Linked DNA regions of Homo sapiens: region 1 is linked to region 2. Evidence: fine-mapped expression QTL. A gene starts in region 2. The other region holds a variant in brackets. All regions are shown on one strand. Distances are between the middles of the regions.

Region 1 (11,424 bases), 45 kb after region 2:
AACAGTGTGATCTGGGCCGTCTCTTTGAGGTGAGTGAAACTTGTTCCTCACTGTGGAATCCGTATGTGTGTTTTCAGAATGAAAGTTTTTCTCGTAGATGTAATCATTTGGTTTTTATCTTTTCATGTTATGGAATTGAGAACCAGAAATCTCAAGCAGATTTAAGTCATAAAATGCCCTTTGAGGGTCAGCTAACCCATCCCCTTGTTTTAAGGGGAAGAGGCACAGAGCTGTTCGGTCATCGGCTTGGACTCACACAGCCGGGTGGCGCCACGGCTGGCTGCTCTGGTCTCCTGGCCCTCAATCCCACTGCCCTTTTCATTGTCACTGTGACAGCAGGACAGAGATAGATTTGGTGGTTTGATTGGCTGACTAGAAAGAATATTTAGTTTCAAGTTTTAAAACTGTTAAGATGACTAACATCTGTTTTGGGTTTTTTTGGTCTCCTTTTTGGTTTTTTTCTCGCAGGGCTTTCAGCAATCGTGAGACCGTCTAGTATAAGACAGAGCACGAAAGGCATTTTTACTGCTGGTAAGAGCTTTGGAAATCCGTGTGTAACATACCTGCTGACTGAGTGGCTTCCACACTCTTGGTTACAGTGTAAAGCTTTGTATCTTTTAGGTGCTTGTGAAATGCTGAGCTTTGATGGCCATAAACTGGGATATTGCAGTAAGGTACAAACAGGCATAACAGCAGCAGAACCTGGTGGTCGAACAATGTCAGACCATTGGCAGTGCTGTTGGAAGCTTTACTGCCCTTCTGAATTTTCTGAGACACTTCCTGTGTGCAGGGTTTTTCCCTCATATTGTTTTATTTATCAAAGTTACAGATGCATAGGATTGCAAAAACAGCAGCATCTGTGCTCCCCCTCCTCTTCCCCTTCTCTGAGACAACTGCTTCCATCTGTCTTAGTGGGTTATTTTTGTTGTTACTGCCATTTCTCTAAATGGTAAGTTTTCGTTGCTCCTTCTCTACGTTTCAACTTTAGGTATCATCTATTGACTTCTCTCTATGGGAGGTTAGAAGTCAACTCTGGCACCCACCCTCATCAAATGTACGCACCCTCCCATCCCTCTGTCCTCCTAATATAGTTGTCTGGTGGTTTTGGCTAATTAGTTTTCAGTTTGATGGTATGGTGAGCCACAGAGTACACCTTTCCTTCCCTGCATAATGTTCTTCTCTCATGGAGAGTGTCTTCGCTGTCCCCTCTAGGGGGTCCCCCATTTACTGTATCTCATGTCTTTCACTTGCTTGGTGCACACTCTCATTTTGGTGAAGCACATTTTCCAGTAATTTCCTGAGAAGGGGAACATGGAAGGCACATTTGGAGACCACGTATGTCTGAAAGTCTTTTTTGTCTGTCTTCACCCATAGTTAATACTTAGGCTGGGTATTGATTAGAAATCACTTTCCTTTAAAATTTTGAGATCATTGCTGCATTTATCTTTTACTTCTAGGATTGTTGTCTATGTCTAAAGCCAATCTGATTCTTAATCCTTTGTGTATGTTATTTCTGGAAGCATGTTAGGTCTTTATTTTTCCCCAGTGCTCTGAATTCTCTCAGTGATGTGCTTTGATGTGAGTCTGTTTTTATCTGTTTTATCTGTTTTACCGGGAATTCATTGCCCTTTCTGTTGGGAAACTCAGAATATAAGCATATAAGAAAAATGTTTTAAATTTTTTCTTTAATTTTGTCCCATCTGTTTTCTCTGTTCTCTTTCTGGAACTCCTTTTATTCAGATATTGCACCCCCTAGATTAGTCTTTGGTTTTCTTTCTTTTGTCTTCTATTTTTTATCTGTTTTTCTTTTGCTCTGCTTTGGAAGATTTTCTCGAATTTCTCAACTTTAGCTTCCAACCCTTCTGTTGAGTGTTTATAATTTCCAGGAACTCTCTCTTTTCTTGCTGTTCTCTGAATGCTCCTGTTTTTTGCATCCTATTCTTGTTTTATGGCCTAAATATTTGACATCTCTTTGGAGGACAAAGTGGCTGTATCAGTTCATCGTCCCACAAGCAGAGTAGGAGAATACTCTTTTCTTCCCATTTTTTCCAACATTTGGCATCATCAAGTGATAGACTTTTCTAGTTCAGGCTTTCTTCATGCAAGCATCCATTGAGCATCTCTCATGTGCCAGCTGCTCGGGATACAAAAGTGAACACAACGCTGCGTTAGTCTGTTCTCATGCTGCTAATAAAGACATACCTCAGACTGGGTAATTTATAAAGGAAAGAGGTTTAATTGATTAGCAGTTCCACATGGCTGGGGGTGTCTCAGAATCATGGCGGAAGGTGAATGAGGAGCAAAATCATGTCTTACATGGCGGCAGGCAAGAGAGCATGTGCAGGGGAGCTCCCTTTTATAGAACCATCAGATCTCGTAACACTTATTCACTATTATGAAAACAGCACAGGAAAGACCTGCCTTCGTGATTCAATTACCTCCCACCAGGTCCCTCCCACGACGTGGGGATTATTACAATTCAGGGTAAGATTTGGGTGGGAACACAGAGCCAAACCATATCAAATGCTATACTGACTTGCAGAGGCGTATAATTTAGAAGGGAAAAGAGACATGCTAACAGAAATTTGCAAGAGAGGGAGAAATAGCACAGAGGTAGCCCAAAAAGGGGAGTGATCTTTCAACCTAATTCTAATCCCTGGGTTTGAGATTGCTGGGGAGCTGGTATGGTCACACCTCTCAGTGTCTCATAGCCCAGCTGCTTGGATACTCCTCTGAGCATTTGGCCCTCAAGGACCGTGTTGCCCTCCTGAATCACTGGAAAGATTCAACAAGGCCAGGCATGGTGGCTCACACTTATAATCCCAGCACTTTGGGAGGCCAGGGCGGGAGGATTGCTTGGGCTCAAGAGTTCAAGACCAGTCTGGGCAACACAGCAAGACCCTGTCTCTTTAAAAATAACAAAAATAGGCCAGATGCGGTGGCTCACACCTATAATCCCAGCACTTTGGGAGGCCAAGGCAGGAGGATCACTTGAGTCCTGGAGTTTGAGATCAGCCTGGGCAACATGGTGGAACCCTGTCTCTAAAAAAATAGAAAAAATAGGCTGGATGTGGTGACTCATGCCTGTAATCCTAGTACTTTGGGAGGCCGAGACAGGCAGATTGCCCGAGCTCAGGGGTTTGAGACCAGCCTGGGCAACATGGTGAAACCCCGTCTCTACTAAAATACAAAAAATTAGCTGGGCGTGGTGGCACATGCCTGTAGTCCCACCTTTGAGCGGCTGAGGCAGGAGAATTGCTTGAACCTGGGAGGCGGAAGTTGCAGTGAGCCAAGATTGTGCCACTGCCTCTGGCCTGGGCGAGAGTGAGACTTCGTCTCAAAAAAAAAAAAAAAAAAAAAAAAAAAAGGGCTGGGCGTGGTGGTGCGCGCCCGTAGTCCTGAGCCCAGGAAGTCGAGGCGGCATTGAGCTAAGAACGCACCACTGCACTTCAGTCTGGGTGACAGAGTGAGACCCTGTCTCAAAAAAAAAAAAAATTATAATAATAAAAACATTGTATAAAAGTTTCAACAAAGACTTAGTAGCACTTGTGTCACATCTGCTGAACTAAAGATTTTCCTACCATTTGGGTGCATGGCTTTGCATTTCCAGTTAAGATATTCATTTAATCTATGTTCCTGCTAGTTTACTCTGGCAAGACTGAAGATGAGGTACTTTTGTTTGTTTGGGTGATTCATGCTGTTAATCTGAATTTTGCATGATTGCCTTTCCCTTGCCATGATCCTCCTTGGGTGAGGCTTAATGATTTGTTTTGTTGTTGGCGTCCCATGCTATAAGGAATTATTGGAATTATTAGAATTATTGTTAATTATTTTTCAGTTGTGACAATGGTGGTGTTATGGAGCTTTTTAAAAAATTCCCTTTCTTTTAGAGATGCATACTAAAATAATTCCAGATGCAATGATATGTTGTCTGGGATTTGCTTCAAAATAAAACATGGCAGAGGGCAGTGGGTAATGGGTAGATGACACAAGATTGGCCATGAGCTGATATATTGTCAAAGCTAGGTAAAGATGCATGGGGCTGTTTTATACTCTTCTGTCTGTTATTTAAGTTTGAATTTTTCTCTAATAAAAGGCTGAAAAAGATCTTCTTGACACCTTCAACCTGAAATGAGCCTTTGGTCCTCTTTCCACTCATTATTTCTACTCACCAGCAGAGGGCAGTTGATCACAGAACCCACAGCTCAGCTGTCCTTGTGGCCCTGGAGTGCTGATGCTGCTTCCCCTGAGTGCTTACTGCTTGCTTCCCCTTCACTTTTTTTTCTTTTTAATTTTTAAAACGTTTAAGGAATACAAGTGCATTTTTCTTACATGGTGAAGTCTGGGCTTTTAGTGTACCCATCATCACCCAAATAGTGAATATTGTACCCAATAGGTAATTTTCCAACCCTCATCTCCTCCCACCCTCACACTTTTTATAGTCACCAGTGTCATTCTATTCTGTATGCTCATGCATACACATTGTTTAGCTCCCACTTAAAGTGAGAACATGTGATACTTGAATTTCTGTTTCTGAGTTATTTCACTTATA[C/G]ACGTGGCCTCCAGTTCTATCCATCTTGCTGCAAAAGACATTATTTCATTCTTTGTTATGGCTAAGTAGTATTCAAGGTGAGATATAGATGTAGATATATACACATTTTTGTTATCCAGTCCTCCATTGATGGACACTTTGGTTAATTCCATATCATTGCTATTGTGACTAGTGCTGCAGTAAACATACGAGTGGTTTTTTTTGTTTTTGTTTTTGATATAATGATTTCTTTCCTTTTGGATGTATACATAGTAATGGGATTGCTAGATCAAAGGTTAATTCTATTTTTAGGTCTTTAAGAAATCTCCATACTGTTTCCCATAAAGGCTATACTAATTTAGATTCCCTTCAACAGTGTATAAGCATTCCCTTTTCTCCACATCTGCACCAACATCTGTTTTTTGTTTTTTGTTTTTTTTTGTGAGACAGAGCAACTGCCTCACTCTGTTGCTCAGGCTGGAGTATAGTGGCGCGATCTCACCTCACTGCAACCTCCACCTCCTGGTTTCAAGCGATTCTCCCCCTTCAGCCTCCTGAGTAGCTGGAGACGGAATCTCTGTCACCCAGGCTAGAGTGCAGTGGTGCAATCTCAGCTCGCAGCAACCTCTGCCTCCTGGGTTCAAGCAATTCTACTGCCTCAGCCTCCCGAGTAGCTGGGACTACAGGCATGCATCACCATGCCTGGCTAATTTTTGTATTTTTAGTAAAATCGGAGTTTCACCATGTTGGCCAGGCTGGCCTTGAATTCCTGATCTCAAGTGATCTGCCCACCTTGGCCTCCCAAAGTGCTGGGATTACAGGTATAAGTCACTGTGCCCAGGCTATTGAATGCTTTTTCTGCATCTATTTAGACAATCATGTGGTTTTTGTCCTTAATTCTGTTTATGTGATGTATCACATTTATTGATTTGTATATATTGAACCATCCTTGCATCCCTGGGATAAATCCCACCTGATCATAATGTATTCTCTTTTTGATGTGCTGTTGGATTTAATTTGCTAGTATTTTGTTGAGGATTTTTGTGTCTGTGTTCATCAGGGATATTGGTCTATAATTTTCTTTTTTGGTGGTGTTGTGTCCTTGTCTGTTTGGTACCAAGGTGATAGCGGCCTCATAGAATGAGTTAGGGAGAATTCCCTCCTTGATCTTTTTAGAATAGTTTCAGAAGGATTGGTATTCATTCTTTCTGTGTTTGGTAGAGTTCAGCTGTGACTCCATCAGGTCCTGGGCTTCTTTTTGTTCTTGGGAGATTTTTATTAGTGATTCAGTCTTGCTACTACATTACTGATCTTTTCAGATACTCTGTTTCTTCCTGGTTCAATCTTGAAGATTATGTTTCCATGAATTTATCAGTTTCCTCTGGGTTTTCTAGTTTGTGGACATCTAGTTGTTTATAATAGTCTCTGATGATCTTCTGTATGTCTGTGGTATCAGTTGTAATGTCTCCTTTTTCATTTCTGATTGTGTTTATTTGTATCTCTTCTTGTCTTGTATCTTGTTTATTTGTATCTCTCTTGTCTTCTTAGTCTTAGCTAGTGGTTTATCAATTTTGTGTATCTTTCAAAGAACCAACTTTTCTTTTTTGTTTTTTGAGTCAGGGTCTGGCTCTATCACTCAGGCTACACGGTGCAGTGGCACAATCATGGCTTACTAGAATATTTGCCTCCCAGGCTTAAGCAATCCTCCCACCTCAGCCTTTCAAGTAGGTGGGACTACAGTGCACACTACCATGCCTGGCTAACTTTTGTATTTTTTGTCAAGGTGAGATTTTGCCACATTGCCCTGGCTGGTCTTGAACTCCTAGAATCTCGATCCGCCAGCCTCAGCCTCCCAAAGTGCAGGGATTACAGGCATGAGCCACTGCACCTAGTCCCAACTTTTCATTTTGTTGATACTTTGTATTGTTTTTTGGTCTCCATTTTATTTAGTTCTGCTCTGATCTTTGTTATTTCTTTTCTTCTGCTAACTTTGAGTTTAGTTATTTTTTTTCTTGTTATAGTTTTCGTTATATTTTTCAATGCCTTGAGGTATGGCATTAGGTTGTTAATTTGTGATCTTCCTACTTTTTTATGTAGACATGTAATGCTGTAAACATTAGTAATGCCCTCTTAGCACTGCTTTTGCTGCATCCCACAGGCTTTGGTATGTTGTGTTTTCATTTTTATTTGTTTCCAAAAATTTTTAAGGTCAGGCATGGTGGCTCATGCCTGTAATCCCAGCACTTTGGGAGTCTGAGGTGGGTGGATTGCTTGAGCCTAGGAGTTTGAAACCAGCCTGGGCAACGTGGAAAAACCCCATTTCTACAAAAAAATTAGCTGTGCAGCTGTGCATGGTGGTATGTGCCTGTAGTCCCAGCTACTCAGGAGGCTGAGGCAGGAGTCTCACTTGAGCCAAAGGAGTTTGAGGCTACGGTGAGCCATGATTACACCACAGCCTGGGTGACACAGTAAGACCCTGTCTCAGGGGTCTCAGGGGAAAAAAATCTTCATTAACCCAGTGATTAAGTGATTATTTAGGGGCATGCTGTTTAATTTCCATGTACTTGTATCATTTCTGAAGTTCCTCTTATGTTGATTTCTAGCTTTATTCTACTATTGTCTGAGAAGATACTTGATTTTGATTTTTTAAAATTTGTTAAGACTTGTTTTGTAGCCTAATGTGTGATGTGTGATCTATCTTTAAGAATGTTTCTTCTTCCTTTTTTTTTTTTTTCTTTCTTGAGACAGGGTCTTGCTCTGTTGCCCAGGGTGGAGTGCAGTGGTGTGATCATGGCTTACTGTAGCCTTGACCTCCTAAGGTTAAGCAGTCCTCTCACCTCAGCCTCCTGAGTAGCTGGGACCACAGGCACATACCACCATGCCTGGCTACATTTATTTTTAATCTTATTTTTTGTAGAGACAAAGTCTCCCTATGTAGCCCATGCTTGAAGAATGTTTTATGTGCTGATGAAAAGAACATATATTCTGTAGATGTTGGGAAGAATGTTCTGTAAATGTCTGTTAAGTCTATTTGGTCTAAAGTCCAGTGTTTCTTTGTTAATTTTTTGCCTCGATGGTCTGTATAGTGCTGTGAGTAGAATGTCGAAGTCCCCCACTGTTATTGTGTTGCTATCTATCTCTTTCTTTAGAGCTAGTAATATTTGTTTTGTGAATTTGGGTGGTCCTATGTTGGGTGCATATATATTTAGGATTTGCTGTACCCTTTTGGTGAACTGATCCCTTTATCATTATATAATGACCTTCTTAGTCTTTTTTTTTTTTTTTAACTGTTTTTGATTTAGAGTCTGTTTTATTTGACATATATATAGTTCTCCTTTTGATTTCTTTTTGGATGGAATATCTTTTTCCACCCCTTTACTTTCAGTCTATTTGTGTCTTCACAGGTAAGGTGAGTTTCTTGTAGGTAGCATATAGGTGGATTATGTTTTTTTAATCCATTCTGCCAGTCTGTATCTTTTAAATGAAGCATTTAATGCATTTACATTTAAAGTTAATATTGATATGTGAGGTTTTGTTTCTGTCACATGGTTATTTTCAAGTTATTTTATAAATTCTTTGTTTTCTTTCTTTTTCTCTTTTTGTCCTTGTGTTTTGATGAAATTCTGTAATTTGATTTCTTTCTTTTCCTCTTTTGTGAGATTGTTTTATAAGAACTGTGAGTTTTATATTTCTGGGTATTTTTGTGATGGTGAATATCAGCGTTTTGTTTCCATGTTTAAGACTCCTTTGAGCATTTCCTATAGGGCTGGTCTAGTGGTGACAGATTCCATTAGTATTTGTCTAGGAAAGACTAGTCTCTTTCATTTATGAAGCTTATTCTAGCAGGATATAAAATTCTTGGGTGACAGGGTTTTTTTCCTTCAGCACTTTAAAAATGCTATCCCATTCTCTTCTGGCCTTTAAGGTTTCTGCTGAAAAGTCCACTGTTAGTCTGATGAGGTTTCCTTTATGGGTGACTAGATGCTTTTCTCTTGCTTATTTTAAAATTGTTTCTTTTACTTTCACTTTAGACCTTCTGATTATAGTATGCTATGTTGAAGTCCTTTTTGCAGTGTATTCACCTGGGGGTCATTGGGTCTCTTGTATCTGGATATCTGACACACTTGCTAGACTTGGGAAGCTTTCATTGATTATTTCCTTAAATAAATTTTTCTAAACATTTTAACCTCTCTTCCTGCACAGCCTTTTCTTCACTTCTAATGATGCCACATTGCATTGTGGAAGTCCAGAGTGACAGAATGTATGTTACCTCACACTGAGGTGACATAAAGCATGGAAAGTGATGAGCACCCCTTCAGATTCTGTGGGTTAAATGGCCTTATGCTCTGGCTGCTCTGTTTATTATGGCCAAGGGCTGTGACAAAGGTTTCCTAGCATAGTGCTGAGGGCAGAGGTTTGTGAGCCGCAGAGACTAGAGCTCAAATTACAACCTAACCAGTGTGACTTGGGCAAGTTACCTAATTTTTCTGAGTTTTAACTTCATAGGAATAATTATGCCTGCCTCACCAGGTTGTGAAGATTATGTTTGGTTTTTTGTTTGTTTTGGGTTTTGTTTTTTTGGAGACAGGTTCTAGCTCAGGCCAGAGTGCAATGGTGTATTTTACGTTTGTTTTTTTGTTTTTGTTTTGTTTTTTTGGAGACAGGTTCTAGCCCAGGCTAGAGTACAATGATGTGATCCTCCCACTTTAGCCTCCCAAGTACCTGGGTCTAAAGGATGCAATACCACACCTGGCTGTTTTTTTGTTTTGTTTTTGTTTTTTGTAGAGATGGAGTCCCACTATGTTGCCCAGGCTTGTTTCAAACTCCTGGGCTCAAGTGATCCTCCCACCTCAGCCTCCCAAAGTGCTGGAATTATAGGGTTAAGCCACTGCACCTGGCCAGGAGATTATATTTTAAGATATATTAAGGCATCTAGCATTGTGTCTGGTTTTTCTTCTTTTGGTATCATTACCTAAAAGTTTCCTGACCTCTCTTTAAAACAAGCCTCTTTACAATGTCATATTTGAATAGTGTTAGCCCCTGGCCCAGGTCTCCAGCTGGAGTAAACTAACAGTGACAGGCACCGAGTGACTGGTTTGCCTGTTTCTCTTTCCTCATCCTCACAGTAAGTTTCAGAACCTCTATCCTTCTCCACCTTGTTCTTTTTTTTTAACTTTTATTTTAAGTTTGGGGTACATGTGCAAGTTTGTTATGCAGGTAAACTTGTGCCATAGAAGTTTGTTACACAGATTATTTTGTCACCTATTTATTAAGCCTAGTTAGAACCCATTAGTTATTTTTCCTGATCCTCTCACCCCTCCCATCCTTCACCCATCAGTATGCCCCAGTGTCTGTTGTTCCCTTCTATGTGTCCTGTGTGTTCTCATCATTTAACTCCTACTTGTAAGTGAGAATATGCAGCATTTGGTTTTCTGTTGCTGTGTTAGTTTGCTGAGGATAATGGCCTCCAGCTCCATCTATATCCCTGCAAAGGACATGGTCTCTTTTTTATTATGGCTGCATAGTATTCCATGGTGTATATGTACCACGTTTTCTTTATGCAGTCTACGATTGATGGGCATTTAGGTTGATTCCATGTCTTTGCTATTGTGAATAATGCTGCAATGAGTATACATATGCATGTGTCCTTGTGATATAATGAATTATATTCCTTTGGGTATGTACTCCAGTAATAGGCTTGCTGGGTCAAATGGCAGTTCTCTTTTTAGGTTTTTGAGGAATCGGCACATTGTCTTCCACAGTGGTTGAACTAATTTACACCCCTGCCAGCAGTGTATAAATGTTCCTTTTTCTCCACAACCTCACCAGCTTCTGTTGTTTCTTGACTTAATGACAACCATTCTGACTGCTGTGAGATGGAATCTCATTGTGATTTTGATTTGCATTCCTCTAATTATCAGTCAGTCATGTTGAGCTTTTTTTCCTTTGATTGTTGGCTGCATGTATGTCTTCCTTTGAAAAGTGTCTGTTCATGTCCTTTGCCCACTTTGTAATGGGGCTGTTTGTTTTTTTTCTTGTAAATTTGTTTAGGTTCTTTATAGATGCTGGACATAAAGCCTTTGTCAGATGCCTAGTTTGCAAAATTTTCTCCCATTTCCTAGGTTGTCTGTTCACTCTGTTCTTCACTGTCTTGTTCTTTTGCTGCGCAGAAGCTCTTTAGTTTAATTAGATCCCATTTAAAATTTTTGCTTTTGTTGTAATTGCTTTTGGCATCTTTGTCAGGAAATGTTTGCCCATTCTTATGTCCAGAATGGTATTGCCTAAGTTGTCTTCCAGGGTTTTTATAGCTTTGCAATTAAGTCTTTAATCCATCTTGACTTAATTTTTGTATATGGTATGAGGAAGGGTCCAGTTTCGATCTTCAGCATATGGCTAACCAGTTTTCCCAGCACCATTTATTGAATAGGGAGTTCTTTCCCCATTGCTTGTTTCTGCCTACTTTGTCAAAGATCAGATAGTTGTAGGTGTGCAGCCTTATTTCCGGGTTCTCTGTTCTGTTCCATTGGTCTATGTGTCTGTTTTTGTACCAGCACCATGCTGTTTTGGTTACTGTAGCCCTGTATTTATAGTTTGAAGTCGGGTAGCATGAGGCCTCCAGCTTTGTTCTTTTTGCTTAGTGTTGCCTTGGCTATTCGGGCTCTTTTGGTTCCATATGAATTTTAAAATAGTTTTTTTCTAGTTCTGTGAAGAATGTCATTGGTAGTTTAATAGGAATAGCCTTGAATATATAAATTGCTTTAGGCACTATGACCATTTTAACAGTATTGGTTCTTTCTATCTATGAACATGGGAAAGTTTTCCATTTGTTTGTGTCATCTCTGATTTCTTTGAGCAGTGTTTTGTAGTTCTCCTTGTAGAGATCTTTCACCTCC
Region 2 (11,424 bases):
GCTTGCTGGAGATTTTATAGGATGGTTCTTTGCTGTGTACTGAAAAGAGCTTTGTGCAGTATTGATAACGCCAAGGTTACAGCGAGCTGTACAGGTGTCTAGTGATAAGTTGGGCACAGGAGGGCTACGTGTCCTGGACCACAAAGAAAGGCAGACTCATAGCTTATCTGCTTTCTTTCTTTCTTTGCTTTCCCGTGCTCTCACCAGCCTAACTCCTTTTCTCTAATTAGGACTTCACAAAAGGGTTACCCTGGAGGTTTGGAAAGTGTCATTCTAAACGCTTTGTAGGAAGTAAGTCTAGGAAGATTGTACCTAGAGTTTTGTCAGTTCTGGGTCTGAACAAAGACATCCTCAGAGTCCAAAGCGTAGAAATTCTTGGCTTTTTACACCCACAAGTTATAACCGTAATTCATGTGTTGAGAAATTCCCCAATCTCTCTCTTAGGCTATAGGATCCCCTGGTGCCTTCAGGCAAAAGAGGTCCGTGAAAATTAGTCTTGATTGGTTTGGGACACTGAGATGATTCTGGGACAGCAAGGGAGTGCTTGGCACCAGCGCTTCCTAAATTTATGCCACAGAATATGAATCCCAGAAGACACTGAGAGAGAAGGTGGAGGGAGCAGAGGATGGAGGAAAACCTAGTCTGGGAGATTGGAAAATGCTACATGTTCTGCTTCTCTCTTGGAGATTCACAATGCTTATTAATATATTAATGCTCGGAGGAATCCCACATCAAAGATCTCGATTTGCCTCTGTTTAATCCAGAATTTCCCAAACTTAGCTGATAGAATTTTTTATCAAATAACCCTCCTTGGGACAAGCTGCTTTACACCAAACCCAGATCGCAGGGGTTCATGCCAGAGACAGACTTGGTATATGGTAACTAATTCTTTCTCTTCTAACTCAGTTCTTTGCCAATTCAGTTTCTCCCAAAATTCAGGGCCAGTTCTACAGAGAGATAAAGTGGGCAGCTGCTGACCAGCTTGAATTTCAGGGATAGTGGAGAATCAGAAGGGTAAACACATACGTAGTACTCACTACATGTCAGAGATTGATCTAACCAGCTTAGTTGTCATGACAACTCTGGGAGGTAGACGCTCTTATTATCCCCATTTTATACTTGTGGAAACTGAGACACAGAGCCAACTTGCACCAGGTCACACAGATCATCAGTGGCTGAGAATTGAAACCAAGCAGTCTCAATCCAGATTCCACATTCTGCCTCTCAGATGAGATACCTGCTCTGTTCTTTGGAATTCCACCATTATTTATTCATTTCTTTGGTACTGTAAAAGTCCATGGTCTTCCTGAACTCCACTGGAAAACTCAGTGTCCCCCTAGAAGGAGGATTCTAAGACCCAGTATGGAGGCAATTCTTTCTTCTTAGAATTTTTTCACGGTGTACTCTCTGGTGAACTGCTGGTCATCTTCCAAGGTCTAATCCAAATGTCATCCCTCTAAGAAGCTTTCCCAGAAACCCTGAAGAAAAAGTAACCCCTGCTGTCTTACCATTGCGGTGGTATAGATCTGGTTTATACTCTCCATAGTGTATTTTTTTTTGCATGCATGTGAATTTTTTGCCACCAGACTATAACATTTGCAAATGCAGAAATTTTGTTTCAGGCACTGTACTAGGCACTAAAGGACAGAAAGATTAATAAGATATGGTTCCTGACCTCAAAGGGCCCCTAAGCCTTTTATAATTGTACTTGATGGACATATCTGATATTTAAGACAAGAGCTAGAGAGCTAAAAGCAAAGGGTTAGGAAGGCACAGAGAACAGAACACTTTGATAGCTGAGCTGGGACTAAAGGATGAGGAAGGTTTCAATGGGAGAATGAATCAATGAATGAATGGGTCCCTTGGTGAAATGAACACCCCGTGTTATTTTTCTCGTGCAAGAGGAAAGGGATTGGACTTGGAGGCTGTATTAGCAGCTGCCATTAGCCCTGTGACTTCAGGCACATCAATTCTTTTTTCTAAGCTTCAGTTTATCCATCTGTAAAACTGAAATAGTAGCTACTAATTTCCCAGGATTTGTTTTAAGAGCTAAATAAAATCATGTCTGCAAAGTGCTTTGTGTAAAATGCTAAACGCCATAAAGATGTAGGTATAATTATGCTTCTTAATTCCTTTTGTACATTGTCTCTTAAGAATTCAGGAGGATGTCCTCCGTTTATTGAAAGCTTACTCCAGGCACTATTCTATGTACTTTCTAGATACTGTTTCATTTGCTGTCACAACAACCCTGTGAGTGAGGTGTCATTACTCTCCCCAGGCTGCAGATGAGGAAAGGAAAGCACAGAGAGGCTAAGTCTTCTTGTCCAAGGTCACACAGCTATTAAATCCTGGGGCCTGGATTCCAACCCAGGTGGTACCTTCAAGCCCCTGATCAGACACTAAAGATGTATTAAGATGCTCTCAGTTGGCTGGGCATAGTGGCTCACGCCTGTAATTCCAGCACTTTGGGAGGCCTAGGTGGGTGGATTGTTCGAGCTCAAGGGTTCAAGACCAGCCTGGACAACATGGTGAAACCCCATTCTCTACAAAAATACAAAAATTAGCCTGGTGTGGTAGTACATGCCTGTAATCCCAGCTACTCAGGAGGCTGAGGTGGGAGGATCACTCGAGCCTGGGAGGCAGAGGTTACAGTGAGCCGAGATCGTGCCACTGCACTCCAGCCTGGGTGACAGAGTGAAACCCTGTCTCAAAAAAAAAAAAAAAAAAAAAAGAAAAGAAAAGAAAAAAAGAAAAGAAAAGAAAGAAAAGAAAAGAAAAAACGAAAAAATGCTCCCAGTCTGTCCCAGTTCTAACCATCAATCAGCCGAGAATGGACAAATGGGACAGGGTGACCCACCTCTGACAAGATGGAGATCAAGACCCCTCTCCTTCCCCTCCATCAGCAGACCAATTGAACATGTGGCTAATTGTAAGAACCACTGAGCCTGGATTTTTATTCTTCCCCAAACATTTTTCTCTCCTGTACTTAAACACTGATTAGAAAAAAAAAAAAAAAGCATTAAAGCCATAGATGTTTTTTTACAGGGCTTTAAAAAAAATGGATTACATGGATTCGATGAACCTTCTCCTAGTGAAAGCCTGACAAGGTCATTATTAAGGAATACAAAGACAACTGCTAGATAAATCAGAAGAATGAGGCCCAATATTCACTCGAGTCACCAGGCATTTATCTATATTTGTAAGTGGCTCTCTAACATGTTTATTTCATTGGTATAAGCTTTCCAACAGAACCCTAAAGCGATTATATAGAACACTGGGTCTTCCTAATAGCCTCTAATTTCACAAGCCATGGTAATTTAAAAGAGAGTGGGTGGATGAAGGGCCAGGAGCAGGGAGATTTCTGCTGAAGAATACAAATGTGTTCGTGGCTACGTTGCTTCTGCCTCTTTCTGGGGAAAGGCAAAATGCACACAGGAATGTGATGGAACCTTCCAGCTGGTGGTTTTGCATTGCAGGAAGAAAAGTGTTTGTGAACATGAAAATTGCTGATAATTGGGTGTGAACGCCTGTAAGGGAGACAAATGGAGAAACATTGCAGCATCTTTATTTCTATCAAGGGCTGAACTCTGCTGGTGGGTGTGTGAATTGGCACCATCTTTTGGAGGGGAATTTAGCAGCGTGCTGACACTCTGACCCAGCAATTCCCCTTCTAGGAATCTGTCTTATAGCAATACTTGTTCATGCACATAAAATGTACAAGGATGCTCATGATAGCATTGTTTGCAGGTGTGAAAACTAGAAATAACCTACATCCATCAACAATAAAATGTTTAAACAGGCCAGGATGCCTGTAACCCCAGCACTTTGGGAGGCCGAGGCGGGTGGATCACTTGAGGTCAGGAGTTCGAGACCAGCCTGGCCAACATAGTGAAACCCCTGTCTCTACGAAAAATACAAAACTTAGCCAGATGTGGTGGCGGGCACCTGTAATCCCAGCTACTCAGGAGGCTGAGGCAGGAGAATCACTTCAACCCGGATGGTGGAGGTTGCAGGGAGCCTAGATTGTGCCACTGCACTCCAGCCTGGGTGACAGAGCAAGACTCGCTCTCAAAAAAAAAAAAAAAAAAAGAAAGAAACAAAAGAAAAGAAGAAAGAAAGAAAGAGAAAGAAAATGTTTAAACACTTTCTTTTAAACAAAAAATTTTAAACAAAATTATGGCATATCCATATCTTAGAATAATTTGCTACTAATACATGGAATGAGGGAAATCTATATATTCTGACACAGAACATTGTCCCTGATACGCTAAGTGCAAAAAAAGCAAATTGCAAAATAGTATCTATCCTAGGAATCCACTTAAAATTGTTTTTAATGTTAATATATTCATAGAAAAATATTGGAAGGAATATGTGCCAAAGATTACCGTGGCTATTTCTGGGGCATGATGTATGTATTTCATAATGTTTACATTTTTATGAACATGGATTACTTTTGCAAACAGGAAAAATCCAATGACGTTGAATTATTTCCCCAAGGGAAGGAAGGAAATAAAAAAGGAACCGGCTGGTAATGAGATTTATTCACTGTCTTTGGGTGAGAGGCTTCAGTGTAATTCCACGGTGAGTGCACTCTGATTCCGGCACCCTGGGCAAGGGCGATATGTAGTAAAAATGAACGGAAGTGACCATGCCCACACCAGGGGCCGCAGACAAACGGCCTCTCTCCGCTCCCTTGCCCTGGTCTCCTGCTTGTTGCTGCGGCTACTGCTGCTGCTCCTGACTCTTGGCTGATGCCTGAGTGCCTGCTTTCTTCCCATTTCCTTCTCTCACCCTGCAAGCCGCTGTAGAGGACACTTAAACATGGTGGTAAAGACCTTGGCCTTTAGAGGTAGGTAGCCCTAGGTTCAAACCCCGACTTCACCACTTTCCTGTGTGACTTTGGAACATTTACTGCTCCTCTTAGGACCTCTGTTTCCTCGTATGAAAAATATCATCATCTTAGAGAACCTGCCTCATAGGATCTCTGGAGTGATGAAAAGAAACAAGTATAAAAAGCCTGGGTGCAGTGGCTCACGCCTGTAATTCCAGCACTTTGGGAGGCTGAGGTGGGCAAATCACTAGAGGTCAGGATTTCGAGACCAGCCTGGCCAACACAGTGAAACCCCATCTCTACTAAAAATACAACAATTAGCCAGGCATGCTTGCTTGAACCCAGGAGGCAGAGGTCACAGTGAGCTGAGATCGTGCCACTGCACTCCAGCCTGGGCAACAGAGCAAGACTCGGTCTCAAAAAAAAAACAAAAACAGAAAAGCCCCAAAGAAGTCTAAAAAGTGCCTGGGCATACTAAGTGCTTAATAATGACACCTATTATTAGTATTATTGTCACCGAGTCCTTTCAATTCTTTCTTGGTTGAATTTTCCCATCTATCTTCTACCTGATAAACTCCTACCCAGCTTCCAGGCCTGGCTCAAAATGCCATCATTGTGAAACCTCTTCTGGTCCCTTTCCCCAACACCCAGAACTGACTGACGTTCCCATTGGAGGGACATTACATTCCGGCACTGTGCTGGGTACCTGGCTGCATTACCCAAATTCTACTCTGATTTGCAGTTCTGTCTCCTCTCCTCTACAGACCCCTAGCTCCTGCAGGGCAGCAGGCAGCTCAGATCTCTTCATCTCAGTGCAGGCCCAGAGTGTGAGTGCAAGTAATCATTTTTCCAATTGATTTAATCCCATCCCTGCTCCTAAGACCTTGGCCTAGCCGTTTCCAGTTCATGGGGGAACTATGATAACAACTGTCTAATCAGTCCCCCACAATTCAGGCTAACATGTGAATTACATAAGTCCTTGCTCAAAACCCTTCAAGGACAGAGCAGAATTTCCGAAAAAATCCCAGAGTTGGAGCCAGACCTGGGTTTAGCTCTAGTTTTGCCACAGGCTGATGTGATCCTATCACCTGGCTTTACCTCTCTAAGCCTTAGCTTGGCCATCAGTAAAACCAAGGCCCTCCTGCCACAGGGCACTAGAGGGTGCTCAGTGAGAAGTGCATGTGAAAATGTGTCAACATTACCTGAATGTTAGCTATTACTATTTCTATTATTTTTGAGAGGTAGTGTATTTTGGGGAGGAAGGAGAGGGTAGTTGAAAAAGTTTCTGTCCTGGAAGTCAAACCACCTCCTGAATGGTAATCTTCAGCAAGTTTCTCCAGTTATACAAAGAGGAGAGCTGTAAGATTTTTCTACTCCTAGGGTCCTGTTTCCTCCAGAAACTGCATTTGAAGCACCCTTTGTGAGACCATTCCACAAGGCAAGGGGGCAAAAACTGTGATCCACCCTTGAAATTAAATGCAAGTATCAGAGAACGTCTGTGCACTCCCATATCCACCCTTGTATTTGAAAAGGGCTTTAGCGTGAAGAAGTCTCCGTCAAATCTTGACGGTGGTATTCTCTACATGGCGGGATTGGGCATCATTTTAATTTTGTGTTTTTCCAAATCTTCGAAATCTGCAATTTTGGAACTAGAGCGATGATGGGGGCACAATATTGTGAAGGCACTACATGCTACTACACTGTCCATTTCAGAACGGCTAGTTCCATATTATGTGAGTGTCGCCTCACTTAAAAACCTTCAATACGCTCCCGATTTTATAGTCATTCTTTAAACCGTAGTTTGAAGAGAGAAGTACAGAGGCTATCAAGGCTCAGGGCCCGCGGAGTCGGGTGACGCTCGCCTCCGCCGATTTGTCCAAGTCGCAACCTAGCCGCCAGCCTGTAGGGCACTCCTCCGACCACGAGGGGACAATGCAAAGCCTCGCGTTCCCCACACTAAGGCGAGCACCGCCTCTTGCGTCTTGGAAGCGCCTGTGCGTGCGTGGGGCGTAGCAAGGGACGGAAGCTCTGCCTGTGCGACCGCCGCCCACCCGAGCCTATCTGGGCTGCGTCTTCTCGCCGCTGCTCTTCGTGGCCCAACGCCCCAATCCTTGCGTGTGCTTGCAGTCCCACCCCACACTCAGCCTTGTGTCCCTCGATCCAGTCTCCGACTTCCATTTCCCACCCTAAACCGCCTACCCGGTGTCTGTTCCCCGCCCGGTTGTCCTCGCCCTGCTGCGCTGAGTGTCCCCTGTTAGCCTCGACCCCATGGCGCTGCAGACGCTGCAGAGCTCGTGGGTGACCTTCCGCAAGATCCTGTCTCACTTCCCCGAGGAGCTGAGTCTGGCTTTCGTCTACGGCTCCGGGGTGTACCGCCAGGCAGGGCCGAGTTCAGACCAGAAGGTGAGCCCGGGCAGCCCCACGACGGGGAACTGTCTGTTCTCACGAGTCCCGTTTTGCCCTCGATTCCTTCAGAGTCGGAGAGCTGCCTGTCCGCTCTGCACACTCCACGTGTCCACTAGCAGAGTGAACCATAGGCCTGCCTTCCTAGTATAACGACAGCGCGAGTTGAAGCGACGGTGTTGAAGGATACTTAGGAATCCACGTGGGTCTAGAGCAGGAGAAGCAGTTAGGCAGAAGGAAAAACTGCTGCAGGGGCAAATGGAAGAAAGGAAAAGAAATCGTTATCAGGTTCTTTCAGTGTTTTAGTCGGCTGGACATCGGAATTTTCTGGGGAGCTTTTAAGAAAATCCTAATGCTCGGCTTCCGCCGATGGAGATTCTGATTTAATTGGTTTGGGATGAGGCCTGGGCTTCAGGAATTTAAGAAACGTCCCAGGTGATTCTAATGCGCAGCCAAGTTTGTTGAGAGTCACCTCTATAAATGTAGGAGAAAATGCAAAATGATCTTCTGACTTCAGGAAGTTGGCGGACTGGTTGTAGGGCCAGGGCAGGTGCAGTGAAAGTAACTAACATCAAAAGTTAGTGCGTGACCAGTGTATTTACCCTCGCTCAGCACTTTTAACAACGGTCTGTTTGAGACTAGGCATTGTTACTTTTCAGAGTTGGCTCAGCACAGCCTCAGTAAGGGTACAGTTTTCCTTGTAATTTGCAGAATTCAGTGTGCAGGTTTTAATGGGGCCCCCTGCGTCTGGATACCTGACTGTAGTCTGTCTTCTGATTAACATCCTGCCTGTTCACTTCCTGGTGAGGCCATCTATGCTGTTGCTTGGATTTCCTCTGTTTCCCACTTACACTACTATTTAATATTTTTCTTTAAATTGGCAGCATATGAGAAATTATAGGTTATTATAGGCTAGTTATTTTTCCCGAATTTACCTTAACATAATTACACATTTTTAAAAAACATGTTTATTCCATACCTGCCTCGCCACCAAATCTCAAGTGTCCCCAGTGGTCTGTAGAGTCACACTCTACAGAGCAGGCGTTAGCCTCCTGATGGCCACCTCTTCATTCTTCCATGGAGGTTTTCCTTTGAATAGACCTGGAATTCCCTGCAAGAAAAGGTCCTTCCTTCCCATTCCCTCACTTTTGATTCCTTACATTCAAGTGAACAAGTTGTAGATTCCAACACCTACATCTTTCTCACATCAGTCCCCATCCTTAGCGCCTTAGCTAATATAATTTCATTTCTCCCCTGGAATCTTGCCATGGCTTCAGATCTAATTCCCCCACCCCCTTAGTCCCTCTTCTCTCCAGTCAGCTCTTCTGCAGGAAAATTTTCTAGCATGGCAAACAGCCTCCCTCTCTGATCTCATCTCCCACCGCATAAATGTGTTCTATTTCAGTCATATCTGACGGCAGCTTCCAGAACATGCTGGCTCCCATATCCACAGAGCACTTTCCTCCAACACGGCTCCCTACCCTTCCCTGTGCTTCCCCCAGTGCTTCCAGCAAGTCTGTTTAACTCACGTGTCCTTCAAGACTCAGATTTGTCATCTCTAGGAGAATTTCTCCCTCCTGTGCCCCTGATCTGATCCCTATGCTGAGTGCAGTTAGTACATTTTGCATTCCTCTATCAAGTCAATGTAGTGATAATTTGTTTATTCTCTCCAGTAGACTCTGAGCTCTATACTTCTACCCTAGGGCCTGTCAGAGTTCATTACTTATGTACTCAATAAGTGGTTGGTGAATAGGTAAGAGATAAAATAACTGACTTCCTTTTATATAGTATTTTGTAGAGTTTATCCAGGTGGTGCTAATTTGATCCAGAAGAAAAGCGGAGCACATTTAGCTACATTTGTGAAAGGCAGTGTAGTGCAGTGGTTCAGCACACACAGTTTGGAGCCAGACCTCTTAGGTCTGCCACTCACAAGCTCTGTGTCCTTGGGCAAAGAGCATCCCCTGTGCCTTGGTTTCTTATAAAATTGAGATAATAGCAGTAGCTACCTTGTAGGGTTGTGCTGAGGATAAATGGAGTGACTGCGTATGTTACCCATAAAGTGTTTAAAGAGTGCTGGCACAACAATACATGTTAAAGAAGTGTTTGCTATTATTACATTGATGAAAACAAAGCTCATATTTGTTCCAGAGACTCGCTCACATTTCTGATGACAGCACCAGGCCTTCTGACTATTGATCATAATTGCGTAGTATGTTAGAGCTTTTCCATGCTCTCTTGCTGCCTTTCTAGGAATTAATACTGAAATTATTCTCTTTTCTTCACTCCACAGAATGCTATGCTGGACTTTGTGTTCACAGTAGATGACCCTGTCGCATGGCATTCAAAGAACCTGAAGAAAAATTGGAGTCACTACTCTTTCCTAAAAGTTTTAGGGCCCAAGATTATCACGTCCATCCAGAATAACTATGGCGCTGGAGTTTACTACAATTCATTGATCATGTGTAATGGTAGGGTAAGTGACTGCTGGCCTTTGTCTTAACTTGGCTGGTTATTTACCTGGGTTATTAGAGTGCCAGCTAAATATGTATGTTCTTGTGGTCAGGAAACATTCACACTCCTGCTGGACGTTGTTATAGTCGGGAAATATGTATGTTTTTATAGTATGTATATTCTTATAGTCAGGAAACATTCACACTCCTGCCAGACGTCTTGAACTTGGGGACAGAGCAGGGACTGGAGTCCTTCCTCATGTCCCATTAACTGTCATTGCAGTGTGAGGAGGTGGTTGGGTGTGACTGACTTATTTTATTTTTTTTATTTTTTTGAGACGGAGTTTTGCTCTTGTTGCCCAGGCTGGAGTGCAGTGGTGTGATCGCAGCTCACTGCAACCTCCGCCTCACGGGTTCAAGTGATTCTCCCGCCTCAGCCTCCCAGTTAGCTGGGATTACAGGCGTGTGCCACCTTGTAGGAGAGACAGGGTTTCACCATGTTGGCCAGGCTGGTCTCGAACTCCTGACCTCAGGTGATCTGCCCGCCTCAGCCTCCCAAAGTGCTGGGATTACAGGCGTGAGCCACTGAGCCCGGCCACACTGACTTTATTTTTTTGTCTTTGGCCAAGTGGTTCTCAAGTTTTAGTGTGCATCAGAATCCCCTAGGTTGTGTGTCCATTGGACACACAGATTGCTGGGCCCCACCCCCAGAGTTCTGATCACTAGGTCTGGGGTAGGGATTGAAGATTTGCATCTCTTAACACACTTCCAAACAGTGCTGAAGCTGCTGGTCTAGAACCATTGGTCTGGTCAGTGGGAGGAATAGGCAGGCCAATTTTGGGTCAGGTTGGAGATTGATTTTATCTAGAAGGAGGGGCAGACACCCCCAGGAAGAAGTTGGAAGTGAAGAGGATATCACAGGTGATTGAGAGCATGTGTGTCAGGTGATAGACGGGAACCTCTTGGTGCCAGGAGACGCGTGGAATTTGACAGTGGGCTGTTGGAGAGCAGGTAAGTTGCATGGATTCCTGCTGGTGGTTCATCTGACAGCAGGAACTTTGCTGAACTGTCTTTCAGCTGAAGCATCGCAGTCTCCAAGAGAGCTGTCAAGACCTAGGCAGAACCCCAGCCTGCAAGGATCAGTAGGGGTCTAAATCAGATGCTTCCTAGAGCTTCCCTGGGCCAGGGATGACATATGGGTTTCACTTGCTGTGCCAGCTCTGCCACTCATTGTTCAAGGCGGTCAGGCTTTGGCCGGCATCGAGCCACCTGGAGATCCCATTTCAGTGCAGATCCTGACTCAGTTGGTCTGAGATGGAACCTGAGATTCTGCCTTTTTTTTTTCTTTTTCTTTTTTTGAAACAGGGTCTGGCTCTGTCACCCAGGCTAGAATGCAGTGGCACCATCTCCGCTCATTGCAATCTCTGCCTCCCGGGCTCAAGCCATCTACCTGTCTCAGCCTCCCAAGTAGCTGGGGCTACAGGCACATACCACCACGCCTGGCTAATTGTTGTATTTTTTGTAGAGACAGGGTTTTGCCATGTTGCCCAGGCTGGTCTTGAACTCCTGACCCCAAACAGTCCTCCCAAAGTACTGGGATTTACAGGTGTGAGCCACCATGCCCCACCAAGGTTCTGCTTTTTTTTTTTTTTTTTTTGAGATGGAGTTTTGTTCTTGTTGCCCAGGCTGGAGTGCAATGGTGCGATCTCTGCTCACTGCAACCTCCGCCTCCCAGGTTCA

Evidence for each region.
Region 1: its variant is fine-mapped to the expression of TAMM41 in spinal cord (GTEx, PIP 0.94).

What each region holds. Positions count from the first base shown.
Region 1 is chr3:11,796,940-11,808,363 of GRCh38, reverse strand. It overlaps TAMM41 (TAM41 mitochondrial translocator assembly and maintenance homolog), which reads left to right. Exons shown (of 8, transcript NM_001284401.2): 7 at 469-531. Among named protein-coding and RNA genes, the nearest start is that of TAMM41, 44 kb to the left of the region's middle. The variant C/G (reference allele first, on the strand shown) is at 4,553.
Region 2 is chr3:11,842,312-11,853,735 of GRCh38, reverse strand. It overlaps TAMM41 (TAM41 mitochondrial translocator assembly and maintenance homolog), which reads left to right and starts at 6,851. Exons shown (of 8, transcript NM_001284401.2): 1 at 6,851-7,234; 2 at 9,525-9,707. The coding sequence starts at 7,100.